2 separate regions of the Homo sapiens genome follow, and region 1 is linked to region 2. Evidence: fine-mapped expression QTL. Tissue or cell type: thyroid. Region 2 holds a variant in brackets; the other region holds the start of a gene. All regions are shown on one strand. Distances are between the middles of the regions.

What was found. PIP is the estimated chance that this variant, and not a neighbour inherited with it, causes the effect.
Region 1: TMEM220-AS1 starts here. The variant in region 2 is fine-mapped to the expression of TMEM220-AS1 in thyroid (GTEx, PIP 0.98).

The regions. Positions count from the first base shown.
Region 1 is chr17:10,725,442-10,733,545 of GRCh38, reverse strand. TMEM220-AS1 (TMEM220 antisense RNA 1) reads right to left here and starts at 3,769. Exons shown (of 4, transcript NR_073458.1): 1 at 3,646-3,769. It overlaps TMEM220 (transmembrane protein 220), which reads left to right and starts at 3,523. Exons shown (of 6, transcript NM_001004313.3): 1 at 3,523-3,766; 2 at 4,486-4,515; 3 at 7,282-7,342. The coding sequence starts at 3,695. RefSeq lists enhancers at 2,898-3,484, 3,485-4,071 and silencers at 3,465-3,704, 3,715-3,884.
Region 2 is chr17:10,659,458-10,667,561 of GRCh38, reverse strand. It overlaps a transcript of MYH3 not described here. Among named protein-coding and RNA genes, the nearest start is that of MYH3, 6.2 kb to the right of the region's middle. The variant G/A (reference allele first, on the strand shown) is at 4,148.

The DNA.
Region 1 (8,104 bases), 66 kb before region 2:
CTGTGTGAGGATGGACTTGGTCTACGCTTGCCTTTCAGATGACCTAACTTGAAGCCTCCAAGCCCATCAATCCTCCTTTGCTGACATTCTTCTTTTACGTACTTTCATGCATTCATTTTCTCTCTCTCAATCCTGTGACCCTGGGAGGCCATTTGTGTCTTTATATGAGCTTCCTGTCTCTGCTCCAACTCTTAGCATTGGATTAACAACCCTACTCTCAGGGAATAAGCAAGCACCTCTATTTCCAAGTTCTCAGAGGGCAGATGTCCAGCCATTCTCGGATTCCAGCGGGGAAGTGAGTCCAGCTCACCTCACTCCTGTGGCTCAATTGCTTTTATGATGCTGTCACTGACTGGGCAGCCAGGGAGTGTCCAGCAGGATGAAGGGTCCTTTGTGCTGCCCTTTCTGCAGAGGGAAGCCAGCTTTGACAAGACCCTACTGCCTTTAAAACCTCATCTTCTCTGCAGTATTGTATCATAGCCTTTTGCTAAAAAGGGAAATGAAATTACTCTTCAAGCAGAGCTGTCTGAGATATTGGATTCATTTAAACGTATTTTTCATTACTTTTCAGACTAAGCCTTCTCTTCCGTGTCTCTGCAAAGCCTGGACAAACCTATAGCAGGAGGTTTGCAAGGATTTCACACATTGCCTTAACTATTGAATCATGACTTTACAAGTCATCATTCTTTGTTGCAAATTACAAAAACCCAATTCACACGGGCTTATGTAAAGAAGAGACTCTGTTGGTTGTGAGATTCTTCCATTTTCAGGCATGGCTGGATCCAGGCTTTTAAACTTCACCTGCAGAAAGCCTTTCTCCCTGTGAGGCTTTCTCCTGACAGCTCCAGGCTCACATTCTACCAGCTCTACACATTCATCACAAAGAAAGCTTCTCTTTAATAGTGTGAGTAGGATTGCCAGATTTAGCAAATATTTGGAACACATCATTGATGATCCAAAATTCAGTTCAACTGAGGTTGTCCTTTACTGACAACCTAAGTCCCATATAGGTCCTAGGATTGAATCTGGGCAATTTGGATCCTATACCCATCCTAGACCCAATCACAGTGGTCAACAGAATGGGATATGTCAGCTGGCAGGCCAAAGTCACCTGCCTATCCCCAAAAGGAGGGGAGCACGGTCAACCCTGTAGTCCACATCCACCCATAGTGCATGTGGTAATCCACAGTACTAAAGACACTGATCCTCGAAGAAAGGGGACTGAACCCTGCAAAGGCAAAACCAACAGACGCTCACTAAGGTGACTTTGAAAGTCCCAGCCGGGTGCAGTGGCTCATGCCTGTAATCCCAGCACTGTGGGAGGCCGAGGCAGGCAGATCATGAGGTCAGGAATTCGAGACCAGCCTGGCCAATATGGTGAAACTCCATCTCTACTAAAAAAAATACAAAAATTAGCCCAGCATGGTGGTGGGCGCCTGTAGTCCCAGCTACTCTGGAGGCTGAGGCAGGAGAATCACTTGAACCCAGGAGGCAGAGGTTGCAGTGAGCTGAGATCGTGCCACTGCACTCCAGCCTGGGCAACAGAGCAAGACTTTGTCTCAAAAAAATAGAAATAAAAAAAGAAAGTCCCAGACAACAGTGAAAACTATAAAACTTCATGGTGGTTGTATGGCATTCAAGAGCTTAAAAGCACTTCCATGCCATTGTTTCCTTGTGGGTATTATAATCATTCCCTGTATTAATTTGCTAGGACTGTCCCAACAAAGTACCACAGTCTAGGTGGCTTAAACAACGGAAATTTATTTTCTCACAGTTCTGGAGGCTGGAAGTCCAAATTCAGGATGTTGGTAGGGTTGGTTTCTCATGAGGCCTCTCCCCTTGGCTTGCAGACGGCCGTCTTCTCCCTGTGTGCCCATGTGGTCTTCCCTCTGTAACTGTCCCCTCTTCGTATCAGGACACTAGTCATATTGGATTAGGGTCCACCCTATAACCTCATTTTAACTTAATCATCTCTGTCAAGTCCCTGTCTGCAAATGCAGTCCCATTTTGAGGCACTGGGGGTTAGGGCTTCAGCATATGAATTGGGGGTGCAGGGGGAATGCAAGTCAGCCCCTAGCACTCTCGCTCTCATTTTTTTCTTTTATGTAAGGAAAAGCACAGTGAGAATAGTCTTCGCTTGTTTCCAATCCCAGGGCTGATTTAGCTGTGGAACTCCACCCAGTGCTGGTCCCCGCTGTCCCCACCCCACCTCTGCAAACACGGGTGCCCACCCCCGCCAGCCGCCAGGCTCCCTGCCTAGTCCCGGCACGGGACCTTCACGGTCCCAGCACCAGGCACAGAGCAGACAACGTTCTTGAAATAAGTGTTTCGTGAAAAGAATGAAACTGAGAGGGAAAGAAAAAAAAAACTAGACAGTTTTAGGAGATTTAGCTCAAAGGAAAAGAGGACAGGCACAGAAGCTCCTGATTTGAAGCGATAAAGACTCTTTAGAACAGCAGAAATGAGGCCTATGGATGTGTAAATGAGCCCGGGGAGGAACTAAGCAGAAGGGCGAATTACAAAACAGAAAAAGACCAGACAGACTAGGGGAGAACAGTGAATATTTCAGTGTCTTCGGTTCATAAGAAATTCATGAGCAATTTTGGAAATTTTGTTGGTTTTGGTGGTGGGAGAGAATTGTAAATATGTATAATATGTAAATATCTTTTATAATAAAAGCCCATGAAGATAAATGAGCCTGTCTGCCGAAAAGCTGTGAGCCGTATAAGATGTTAATATAACTGTCGTCACTCTAGAAATTACCATAATGCTTACAGGGATTTGAAAGTTCCTGAGCTTTGGAAGGAAATGCATAAATACTAAACAGAACACACACACACACACACACACACACACACACACACACACACACATCTCTTTTTCTTTCTCTTTCTTATTTTTGTAAAAACAATTTTTATCCTTTTTTTTTTGAGGAGTCTCGCTTTGTTGCCCAGGCTGGAGTGCAGTGGCACAATCTGGGCTCACTGCAACCTCCGCCGCCCGGGTTCAAGCAATTCTCCTGCCTCAGCCTCCTGAGTAGCTGGGATTACAGGCTCCCGCCACCACGCCCGACTAATTTTTTCGTATTTTTAGTAGAGATACGGGGTTTCACCATGTTGGCCAGGCTGCTTTCGAACTCCTGACCTCAGGTGATCCGCCCACCTCGGCCTCCCACAGTGCTGGGATTACAGGCGTGAGCCACTGCGCCCAGCCCTTTCTTTCCTTCTTTCTTTTTCTTTCTTTCTCTTTCTTCCTCTCTCCCCTCCCGCCTGCCTTCCTTCCTTTTTTCCTTCTTTTTTTTCTTTCTTCTTTTTTTTTTTTTTTGTGAGGAAGGTAGCTTTAGTGAAAACAGGGTTTGGAGTTGAACCTATACGGGTTCAAATTCGACTTCCGTCCACCACCGAGACCTGCGCTCCCTGAGGGACTCGCTTTCCCATCCGCGAAACCAGGACGGCGCCGCCTACACCCCGCGGCGTTCGGGGCGGGCTGAATGGGTCGCTGAGTGGGGGCTACACCCACGCCCTTCGCTCCCCGCCCCCGGGCGGAGCGACGGCCACGGCAGTGTCCCCAAGGCACCGAAACCGAGGCGGGGGTCTCGGTCCCTCCGCGCAAGGAGGAAGGCGGACCGTACGTGGCAGGACTCACCGCCCCGCACGTGGCAGGACTCACCGCCCCGCGCCGTGTTCTCCGAGCCATGGCGCCAGCGCTGTGGCGGGCCTGCAACGGACTCATGGCCGCCTTCTTCGCGCTGGCGGCCTTGGTGCAGGTCAGGCGGCCGCGGTGGGAGGGGGACCCGCCCGGCTCCCAGCTCCGCCCCCTGGCCTAGCGGGCCGTGTAACTGACTAGCGGGCAGAGTCGCAGGGGCGCACAGTTAGTGGGGAGGACGGGACTTGGGCTTTCTGCTTGGGGAGCCCCCACTTTCTCCCCCGTCTAAGAGACGCGGATGTGTTCATGGAAGCGAGTCCCATACCAGGGCTCACACCCTGGAAGGGGCTGGTTCCGCGCGTGGAACTTCCCAGGGGACCTCAGAAGAAGCGGCCCTGGCTCCTGCGTTAACGTCCGGCCCGCGGACGACACTGAACATATCTCAGGGCCTAGGAGACGAAGCCGACCAAAACCCTTTATAGCATCATTAAACTTTTTAGTCGGCTTGGGGACCCCCTTCATAATCATTTCCCTCATTTCTTGAGACTGGTGGGGGTGGAGGGCCCTTAAAATACCCGTTCTGGGTTGGCGAGTCCTCTCCAGAGCTCCCGTGAAGGCTTTTCAAAAATGTGTGGCTGCCTGTTAAAAACATCTGTTGTGTCAGCCAGAAACCCCTTCACCCGTCCTCATCTGGACTATATCCTGTTCAGATTTTGTACCCTCGATGCCTATTGCAGTGTCTGGCACTTAACAAATTAATAAAAAATGTGCTTAAATGAATTTAAAAGGAATGGAACAGCACAGGATGTCTGCTAACACCTTGGTATTCTGGCGTTCCAGGTAAATGACCCAGATGCAGAGGTGTGGGTGGTGAGTATGAGCCGCTTCCAGGCTTTCCTCCGTTTGGAAGAATTGGGGAACGGCACAAAACACACGGTTTTATGTCTTTACCCCTCCTCCCTGCTTAATTTTCTGAGAAACTTAAAAATCAAACCCTTGGGAAGCGCTTTTTCCTAAAATATTAATAGGCAGGATCAGAGTTCTAATGTAATGTGTGTGTGAATTTCGAACTTTCTGGAAACAGGTCTTTCTGCAGTATTCCCTTTGGTTAGATGGCCCAACTGAGGACTTTCTTGAGGACCTAGAGTAGGCCTCTCAAGATCAGTTGAACAATTCCTTATGAGTTTCTAGCCAGACACTCAATGCAAACCTTTGACCGGAAAATAACAGGCTTAAGTTCTGAGGTTCTGCTAATTCAGTGACTTATATTTCTAGAAAGTATTAACTCCTGGCTGGGCAAGGTGGCTCACGCCTGCAATCTCAGCACTCTGGGAGGCCAAGGCGGGTGGATCACTTGAGGTCAGGAGTTCTAGATCAGCCTGAGCAACATGGTGAAACCCCGTCTCCACCAAAAAATACAAAAATTAGCCAGGCGTGGTGGCATGCGCCTGTAGTCCCCAGCTACTAGGGAAGCTGAAGCAGGAGACTCGCTGGAACCCAGGAGGCAGAAGTTGCAGTGTGCTGAGATCGTGCCACTGCACTCCAGTCTGGGCGACAGAGTGAGACTCCATCTCAAAAAAAAAAAAGCAAAGAAAAAAAAGAAAAAAAAAAAGCAAAGAAAAGTATTAAATCCTGTAAAACCTACAGTCTTCATATAAGCAAGGCTCTGATTTGAACCATTTGGAGGAGGGGGCCATTGTTCCATACATCTTCTAAATATCTTTTTTTTTTTTTCTTTTTGAGACGGAGTTTTGCTCTTGTTGCCCAGGCTGGAGTGCAATGGCGCAATCTAGGCTCACCGCAACCTCTACCTCCCAGGTTTGAGTGATTCTTCTGCCTCAGTGTCCCAAGTAACTGGGATTACAGGCATGCGCCACCACACCCAGCTAATTTTGTATTTTTAGTAGAGACAGGGTTTCTCCATGTTGGTCAAGCTGGTCTTGAACTCTCGACCTCAGGTGATCCACCTGCCTCAGCCTCCCAAAGTGCTGGGATTACAGACATGAGTCACCGCGCCCGGCTCTAAATATCTTTTATCTTCCAAAATATCTGAATTTTGCCCAGTTTCTCTCAATATAGATACACAAGACTGTACAGTACACCAAGGAGATGACTCTTAAGCTTTAGAATAATATTGACAGAGGAGCAACAAGGATGATGGTATCTGGAATTATAACATGAAATTCTATCCAGGTTTTGTTTTTTTAGTGCAGTAAAACCACATTCTGATATTTACTATCCAGATCAGTATGCCTCTGAATCAAATCAAACTGCCTTTGCCTTGGCACCCTGGTCCGTATCTTGAATTCCAAATATTATTTCCCTGCAGACAAGTCTCAGACATCCAGCTTAATGGTGAATTTCCAAAAGACTGCTGCGTATATTCACCTGCATGTCACACTGCTCCTCAGATATGCCCAAGGACCTACCTAGCATCTTTCCCTCCAAAATCTACTTATCCTGACTCACCCATTTCTGTTATCAGCAGAATCATTCTCTGAGTCATTCTTGTTCAGAATCTCAGTCATCTTTATCATCTCTCTGTTCCTTACCACTGCCTTGGAGAGCCCCTCAAAACACAAAATAAATTTGAGTCGGGCATGGTGGCAGGCATCCGTAGTCCCAGTTACTCAAGAGGCTGAGGCAGGAGGCTCACTTGAGCCCAGGAGTTCGAGGCCAGCCTGTGCAACATAGCGAGACCCCCCCCATCTCCAAAAAATTAATTAAACAATCGAGGTCTAATTGCTTATCTCTATAGTACCTGCACATTTTACCTTTCATTCATGCTCAGACGATATAATAGGAGGAATAGACCCCATGTCCCCATAGACATCCTCCCTCATTCACAGTTCAGCCCTCCACTACCTCCCACATGGACCCCTGGCACCTGCCTTAACATCTTCTGATATAAGCACAGAAATTGATGTGATTAGACAGCTACATTGTTTGGAAAGTCCCCATCCTTCTTATAAACCCACCCTCCCTACTTATTCCCTGCCAACAACACACACAATAGTAAGTTTGGCTAGAGCCTGCTTGTTATGAACAAGGCTTAGGAATAGGGCCTCTTTAGGGCTAGTCTTCTCATTTCCAAACACTTATCAGCAGTTCCAAAATGAAGAGCCTGACCTTATTACTGGGCACAGCTGATTGTGTATGCATTATTAGAAAACTTTCTGTGGTCTCACAGAGATGCAGTACTGGCCTGGATGGTCCATTGGGTCCAAAGCCAGCAGGGCCATCTAGCATCGTGGCTGCTCCTGCCCTACTTTTCAAAGAACATTTTCTTTTATGCAAGTGGGGAAAGGCCATTTGGGCATGAAAGTTGCTTGGGAGCGACTGGAAAGTTAGTGTGTCTTAAGACCAAAACCCTGTGCTCAGTGTTAGAGCTCAAAGATAAATGAGCTTCTGGAATAGCCTATAGTCTAGGAGGAAGGTAGATAAAATTGCAGGCAGACGTGCTAAGTGCCACAAAAGGAGAATCTACCACTTTCTCAATCACCATTGAAACTTAGAGGCAAATCATGGGGCACAGCAGCCACTGATCTCATCTTTCTTTACTTCCTGTATCTCTGAACATCTCATATATTGGGCATACATCTTAACTCATGTAATTTCCTCCCTTTTTGCTAACAGGTGGTGTACACAATCCCTGCAGTACTGACCCTGCTTGTTGGACTTAACCCTGAAGTCACAGGTATAAGCCTTGCATTCTAAATGGAGAGACAGCAAATCAGATTTCCTCATAATAATGAGGGTCTATCTGCCCAACTCCCAGGAGTAAAACGGGGCTCTCTAGGCCTTTCTTCTCATTTCTGATAATAAAAGGGGCTAATTCTAATCATCCTTACCCATCTTCAGGAAAACGTCAGAAGGATCTGCTATAAAACAGCGTCTTCTGTTTTATAGAAGTGAGAGGACAGATTCTTCTTCACTTTCTTTAAAACAGTTTCTCCTAGTGGGGCTCGAATGTTCTCAGGGGCCTTAGAATAAAGACTAATGAGTCCCACCTTAGTGGGGAAAATTCTAGTTCCCTAGATGCCTGGGCTCCTTGTATAGGCAGCTAGAACTCCGTCTGCATCTTTAAGGTAGATCAGTTAGGGCTCCTTTAGATACAAGCTAGAAAATAACTCAAATGTGCTATGAGCTGAGAAGAAAAGGTATTGGTACAGTTTACTGAAAAGGTGAAGGGTGGTGCTGGCTTCAGACTGGTGGACTCGGAACTTTACCTTCTCTCCACCTCTCAGTTCCACCATCTGTCATGCTAACTTCACTCTTGGGCTCCACACAGTGGCCCTGCAGCCCCCCATTCACATCTTCACGATGCCACGTCCAGTGGAATATGGACTGTGTTTCTTCACTCTACCAAAGTCTCAGAATGCAGTTGCTGGCTCTGATTGCTTGTCCGTTTGTGCTGATCCAAATCACTGTGGCTGAGGAGATAACATGTATTGATTGA
Region 2 (8,104 bases):
CTACAGGCGCCTGTCACAACACCCGGCTAATTTTTGTATTTTAGTATAGATGAGGTTTTACCACGTTGGCCAGGCTGGTCTCAAACTCCTATCCTCAAGTGATCCATCTGCCTTGGCCTCCCAAAGTGCTGGGATTACAGGTTTGAGCCACTGCACCCGGCCTCTGATTCTTTTTTAAGGGTGCATAACATTGTCTCATGTGGATATAACATAATTTATTCAATTAGCCTCCTGTCAATAAACATAGGCTGTTTCCAATCTTTTACTATTATGAACAGTGCCACAATAAATATCGTTATGCTCACAGTATTTTAGTATTTGTGAAAATATCTCTTACCGTAGGTTCCTAGAAGTGGTTTTCCCAATGGAAGGGAAATTGCACGTATCATTTTGCTAGTTTGTTTTTCTAAATTATCCTCCGTAGCAGTTGCACAATTTTCCACCCACCAGAAAAGTGTGAGTGTGTGTGTTATGACAGCTTTGCCAACAGAATGTCTTGCCCAGCATTTGGATTTTCTCCAATGTGATTGGTTAGAAAGTGTGTTTTCAATATGCATTTTTCTTAAATAGGGAAAGGTAAGCATTTTTCATATGTTTAAAGCCCTTCTGTGTATCATTTTCTATAAACCGTCTGCTTGTTTATTTGCCATTTGTTGCTATCTGCAGGGTTTTGTTGTTTTCCTTGTCTTTTTCTTCGTAACTTCTAAGAATTATTTATGCATTAAGGAAGTTGGCCCTTTGTGATGTAAATTACAAATATTTTCTTCCATTTTATCACGTCTTTTAGTTTTGTTTTGTTTTTGTTTTTGTCTTGCTCTGTTGCCAGAGCTAGACTGCAGTGGCGTGATTGTAGCTCACTGTAGCCTTGGCCTCATGGGCTCAAGCAGTCCTCCCCCCTCAGCCTCCCAAGTAGCTGAGACTGAGACTGCAGGCATGCACCACCATGCCTGGCTAGTTTTTTAAGTTTTTTTTTTTTTTTTTTTGTAGAGACAAGGTCTCACTCTGTTGCCCACGCTGGTCCAGAACTCCTGGGCTCAAGCAATTCTCCCACCTCAGCTGGCCAAAGTGTTGGGATTACAGGCATGAGCCACTCCCAAGTAGCTGGGACTGTAGGCATGCACCACCATGCCTGCTGGTTTTTTTTTGTAGAGACAAGGTCTCACTCTGTTGCCCACGCTGGTCCGGAACTCCTGAGCTCAAGCAATTCTCCCACCTCAGCTGGCCAACGTGTTGTGATTACAAGCATAAGCCACTGTGCCTAGCCTGTCATGTCTTTTGGCTCTATTTTAATTTTCCTATAAAGATTTTTAATTGTTATGATGTTGGATTTATCTATTGTTTTTTATTTTACTGCTTTTGAGTCATGGTGGGCCTTCCCCATTTCCAGATTATAAAAGAATCTACCATGATCTAGTTTAGTGCCTGTTTCCTGGCTTTGCATTTTGATTTGATCTATTTGTTATTTAATCTGGTGTATGTGTGAGGTATGGATCCGGATTCATTTTTTTTCCAAATAGCCATCTGGTTGTCTCATCACCACTTATTAAAGAGTCCATCTTTGGTCCACTGACTTGAGATGCCATTTCAGGTATCACATTTCCATAAGTATCCGGGCCTCCTTCTGGACTCTCTATGCTGTTCCGCTGGTCAGTCTGTCTCTTCATGCATAGCACTGCCCTCTTCATTATGTAGACTTTAGAGTGTATGTTTTAGTATCTGGCAGAATGTCCTCCTGTGGCTTTTCTTTTTTCAGTATTTTCTTTACCATACATCCACAAAATTTAAAATCAAGTTTCTAGCTCCAGAAAAAGGAAGTGTTGGTATTTTTATTGGGACTGCATTACATTTATATATTAGCTTGAGGATAATTAACATCTTTATGATGGTGAATCACCCTATCCAAAGCAAGGAATATCTACTTTTGTGTCCTTCAGCAGTTTAAAGTTTTGCATATCTCCTGTTAAGTTTATTCTTAAGTATTTTATCCTCTCTATTGCTATAGAGTCTTTTCTTCCAGAACCAATTGATTATACAAACAGCTCTTCGGGTGATTCTAAGGGATAGCCAGGTTTGAAATCGCTGCTTTAAACAAAAATTCAGTGTTAAATTAAAGGTTATAGTCTGGGTTCGGTGGCTCACACCTGTAATCCCAGCACTTTGAGAGGCCAAGGCGGGCGGACTACTGGAGGTTAGGAGTTCAAGACCAGCCTGACCAACATGGTGAAACCTCATCTCTACTAAAAATACAAAAACTAGCTGGGCATGGTGGTGGGTGCCTGTAATTCCAGCTACTCGGGAGGCTGAGGCAGGAGAATCGCTTGAACCCAGGAGGCGGAGGTTCCAGTGAGCCAAGATCGTGCCACTGCACTCCAGCCTGGACGACAGAGCAAGACTCTATCTCAAAAATAAAAAAATAAAAAATAAAAATAAATGAATAAATAAAGGTTATGGCTTACATTTTAACCAACCCCTACCTCCCAAATTGGCCACCTTTCTTCTATATTTTCTATTATCATGATGCCGTTTGCTCCCAATTTCATCCCTTTGGTAACCTCACAGTGATCTTTGATCTTTCCCTTCCATGCCTGATATATAGCTGGCAGACTAATTTATCTGCTTCCTTGTCTATGTCATTGTTCAGGCCCATCCATTACTTTTAATTCCTTTCTCCAAATCCCCTGGCAAGGTCCTGGGCCATGCCTGCCTCCTTTTTTTGTCCTTGGAATCTGTCTTCACCTGTTTTGCTCAAATCATTCTTCTCGGCTTCAATCATGTTGCTCTGAGCTCCCTACCACAAGGGTCCCGTCAATCATCTGAGTTCAATGCAGCCTGCGACGGTAGCCGCCACCTGCCCCACCATAGATACGGGGTCGTCTCCTTTTTGCCAGCTGAGTGTCTTGGACCTGACTCTCATCTTGAGTCCTCTCCTTAGGTTTCCCCGTGGCTTAGGTTTCCCCGTCAACTCATTACTTGTTCATCTTTCAGCACCAGCTCTCCCTTTCACTCACAGATCGAAGTTTGACATTTTCAGGAAATTTACTCTGATTAACTTTGCAAACTTTCCAGCTTATGTCATAACTCCTGAACCGTCCATCCCCTAATCTTTTCTCATGTATTAATAGTTAGGGAGGTGGTTCTCTGCAAGGCTCTGACATCAAACCGGACTCCATTATAATCCTGGCCGGTCACTCACTAGCTACCTACCCCAAGCAAGTTTCTCTACCTGTCTCGTGCCTTGGTTTCCTCTTCTGGGATTCGTAGCTAATCATAGTGCCTCCCTCGCAGAGTTTACATGAGCATTAGATGAACCAATGCTCACAATATCTTTAGCAGAGCAGAGACGAAAATGTGCTAGCAATTTTTACTCCTGCATTAACAGTGAGTTTTTATAAGACTCTACATAACCTTCTTGAAAGCAGGCATAATATTCATTTTTATTGTATTTGCAAGGTGGGAAGCATTTTTCATACTAGACCTTTTTTTTTTTTTTTTTTTTTTTAAGACGGAGTCTCACTCTGTCACCCAGGCTGGAGTGCAATGGCACGATCTTGGCTCACTGCAACATCTGCCCCCCAGGTTCAAGCAATTCTCCTGCCTCAGCCTCCTGAGTAGCTGGGATTACAGGTGCACGCCACCACATCCAGCTAATTTTTGTATTTTTAGTAAAGACGGCATTTCACCATGTTGGTCACGCTGGTCTCGAACTCCTGATCTAAGGTGATCCACCTGTCTCGGCCTCCCAAAGTGCTGGGATTACAGGTGTGAGCCACCGCATCTGGCCATGTTAGACCTTTTTTTAAGTGTTAGTTAGTTTTTGGAATAGGTGACACATATACCAAGCACATAATTCAAAAGTTACAGAAAGGTAAATAGCAAAAAGCCAAAAGAAAGTCCCCCTCCTGTCCTGTGTCCCCCCAGCCACCCATTTCCCCTCCCAGAGGAAAGGACCCTTCGAGAAATCCATCAATGTCTGATGTCTGTCGACTTGGCTTTCCCTGTACCACAGCTTTCCAGAAGCCTTCATTTCCTGGGCCCCTGTGAGCTTTCCCACTTCTGCCTTTGGCCCTCCTGTCCCCTTGCTGAGGATGCCTTCTTGCACCCTTGACTTCTCGAGCACTCTTCCTGCTCCACAGGGCCCCACATGAAT[G/A]CCTCTTCACAGAGTGCCCTAGCATTCCCTCCCTGGGGCCACCTTGTTCCGCGAGACATTCTTTCTCCCTCATTCGAACACCATCAGCATGTGTGACTTTTTGATCCCCTCAACACTTTTGATCTTGTACCATACAGTTCATTTGGAGGAATATGTCTGCCTCTTCTCACTCTTAGAGGTGAACGCCTTCTCGAAGACAGAGACCAGGCTGTCTCCATCTGTATCTCCCTGGAAGGGCTGGGTTCTGTGTCTGGCACGTAAAATGTCCAATAAGATTTATTTTATTTTATTTTATTTCAGTTTACTTTTTTTTACTTTATTTTATTTTGAGATGGAGTCTCACTCTCTCACCCAGGCTGGAGTGCAGTGGTGTAATCTCGGCTCACTGCAACCTCTGCCTCCCAGGTTCAAGTGATTCTCCTGCCTCAGCCTCCTGAGTAGCTGGGATTACAGGAACCCACCACCACACCCGGCTAATTTTTGTGTTTTTAGCAGATACAGGGTTTCAACATGTTATCCAGGCTGGTCTTGAATTCCTTACCTCAGGTGATCCACCCACCTCAGCCTCCCAAAGTGCTGAGGTTACAGGCGTCAGCCACTGCACTCAGCCCCGATAATGTTTATATTACCGAAAAATAACTAAATAAGGTAGGAGGAATGATCAAGACTAAAAGAAACTAAAGAGACATACTCATCAAGTGTAATGCCTAAAAAAAGATTCCATCTTTACTTGGGGGTTGGGGAGAACCCAGCTATACCATTGTTGGAAGAACTGGAAAAATTTACATGCGAACTGCCTAAGACATGATATAGAATTATTACTAATTTTATTGGGTAAAACAATGGCATTTTGGAGATTGTCCTTTTTCTTAGGAGATATATACTGAATATTTAAGGGTGAATTTGCATATTGTCTACTACTTTCAAATGGCATAGCAAAATAAGACTTAGCTACAGAGAAAGAAAGAGAAGGGAGAGAGGGAGAAAGCAAACTGGCAAAGTGTTAACAGTGGTCGCATTTAGATATGGGTGTTCATTTATTACGCTTTGTACTTACCTAAATGCTTGACATTTTTCATGATAGAAAGTTGGGGACCAGACGCAGTGGCTCCTGCCTGTAATCCCAGCACTTTGGGAGGCCAAGGCGGGTGGATCATTTGAGGACAGGAATTTGAGACCAGCCTGAACAACATAGGAAAACCCGGTCTCTACTCAAAATACAAAAATTAGCCTGGCATGGGGGCACCTCCCTCTAATCCCAGCTACTTGGGAGGCTGAGGCACAAGAATCACTTGAACCTGGGAGGCCGAGGTTGTAGTGAGCCAAGATCATGGCACTGCACTCCAGCCTGGGTGACAGAGTGAGACCCTGTCTAAAAAAAAAAAAGAAAGAAAGAAAGAAAGAAAGCTGGGGAAGGTGCATAATATAGTTGAATTGAACTAAAAGGAGAGTTATGGCCTCTCTCTTCTTGAATTTCTTCTTGAGACTCTGGGCATTTTGGCTTAGGACCCCCACCCTTCACCTCAGTGCCAGGGAATGGTCTTGGCTCAGGATAACCGAGTTCCTCATTTCTAGTGACACCTAATCCCCATCACAGTGGGGCATGGAGAACGCTCTTGATCCAGGAGCCATGTGCTCTCCAAGGCTGACTTCATGCTCTGGCAGACAGCGGTCCTGGGCATGATGCTGCGAGGCTGGGAGCCCCAGCATCCGTTCTCAGGACTGAACATCAAACGGCGGCGGTGGAGAAAATAGCTGGGCAGGAAGTGACCGAGCATCGTGAAGAAGGGGGCAGCCACCTGATTCATTGCCTGCTGAGCCGGCCTGCATTCTTGAGACACAATACATATATTTTCCAGCCCATCAAGGGATAAATGCAGCTCTGCCCTGGCTGTGGGGATTATCCCTGGCTGTGTGATGGCTGAAAGAATAAGGGCTCCTTCTGTTCCCAAAAGCCAGCTAATAATATGCCACTAAGTCATCTGTCCCCTGTTCATCAGAGGATGAATTCCAAGAGAGGATCCAGTTCACTCCTGAAGCTATCTCTTGAAGCAGCAAGAGACTCTCTTCTTTAAGATTTTTCTCTTTGGATGGAATTTTTTTTTTTTTTTTTTTTTTTTTTTTTAGATGGAGTCTCAGGCTGGGTGCGGTGGCTCACACCTGTAATCCTTGCACTTTGGGAGGCTGAGGCAGGTAGATCACCTGAGGTCAGGAGTTCAAGACCAGCCTGACTAACATGGTAAAAACCCATCTTTACTAAAAATACAAAAATTAGCCAGGCATGGTGGCATATGCCTGTAGTCCCAGCTACTCGGGAGGCTAAGGCAGGAGAATTGCTTGAACCTGGGAGGTGGAGGTTGCGGTGAGCTAAGATAGCGCCATCGCACTCCAGCCTGGGCAACAAGAGTGAAACTCTGTCTCAAAAAAAAAAATAAGGAGTCTCACTCTGTTGCCCAGGCTGGAGTGCAGTGGCACAATATCGGCTTACTGCAATGTCTGCCTCCTGGGTTCAAGCAATTCTCCTGCCTCAGCCTCTCGAATAGCTGGGATTACAGGCACCCACCACCACACTCAGGTAATTTTTGTATTTTTTTTTAGTAGAGACAGGGTTTTACCATGTTAGCTAGGCTGGTCTCAAACTCCTGACCTCAAGTGATCCACCCGCCTTGGCCTCCCAAAGTGCTGGGATTATAGGCATGAGCCACCATGCCCGGCTGGATAGAATTTTTTTTTTTTCCGAGTCAGAGTCTCACTCTGTCGCCCAGCCTGGAGTGCAGTGGCATGATCTCGGCTCACTGCAAGCGCCGCCTCCCAGGTTCACACCATTCTCTTGCCTCAGCCTCCCAAGTAGCTGGGAATACAGGGACCTGCCACCATGCCAGGCTAATTTTTTTTGTATTTTTAGTAGAGACGGGGTTTCACTGTGTTAGCCAGGATGGTATCGATCTCCTGACCTCATGATCCGCCCGCCTCGGCCTCCCAAAGTGCTGGGATTACAGGCGTGAGCCACCGCGCCCGGCCAGAAACTATTTTTTAATATTACATATGTCTCTTTCTCCCTCCCCATCTCAATAAGACATATATTCAGTGTAATTTACTCAGGGTTCTCATTAAGAAAACCAGTCACACTGTGCCATAATCTGCAGGTAGAGAAGAAAACTTACACCTGGCAAACACCTGCAATGTACCAAACACAGCACGAGGCATGGTGTGTGCGATGTTGGGATATCCCGCTGAATGCACATAACTAGTCTGGGAGGCAGGTATGTCACCCCCGTTTTACAGAGGAGAAGACGAAGGCTCAAAGAAGCACACTGCCTGCCATCACGTGGTGTGCAAGCGGGCAAGCCGGGATCCACATCCAGGCCTGTAGGACTCTCAGCTCCATGCTCCTCCTGCTCCGACCTGCTGCTGTGGAAGTACATGCAGTTCTCACCTCTCCTAAAGATACGTTTCCAAATGACCAGACTTTGTGATTCCTGATATCCAGCTTTTCAACTGCTCTCCAGACTGCCGTGGGTGCTGTCCCTTCCAGCCACTGCGGGATTTCTCCTGGAGAGCTGACCTCTATCCCTGACGCTGGCCCTCTTCTCACCGCTTCCAGCAAGCTTCCTGTGGCTCCTGCCTTCGGTTTCCTCATCTGAAAAGGAGACAGTTCAGCCAAAGAGATGGTTCAGCAGGGTGTTCTTTCTCCCTCATTTGAACGCGATCAGCATGGGTGCCTTTCTGGTCCACTCAACACCTTTGATCTTGTACCACACAGTTCATCTGGGGGAACGTGTCTTCCTCTTCTCAGCCCTACAGACGAATGCCTCTTTGAAGGCAGGGACCAGGCCATCTCCATGTGGAGCACTCTGGAAGTTCTGGGTTCTGTGCCTGACACATAAAAAGTGTCCAGTGATGTCTATATTACTGAAAAATAAATACGTAAGATAGGAGGAATGATCCAGACTAAAA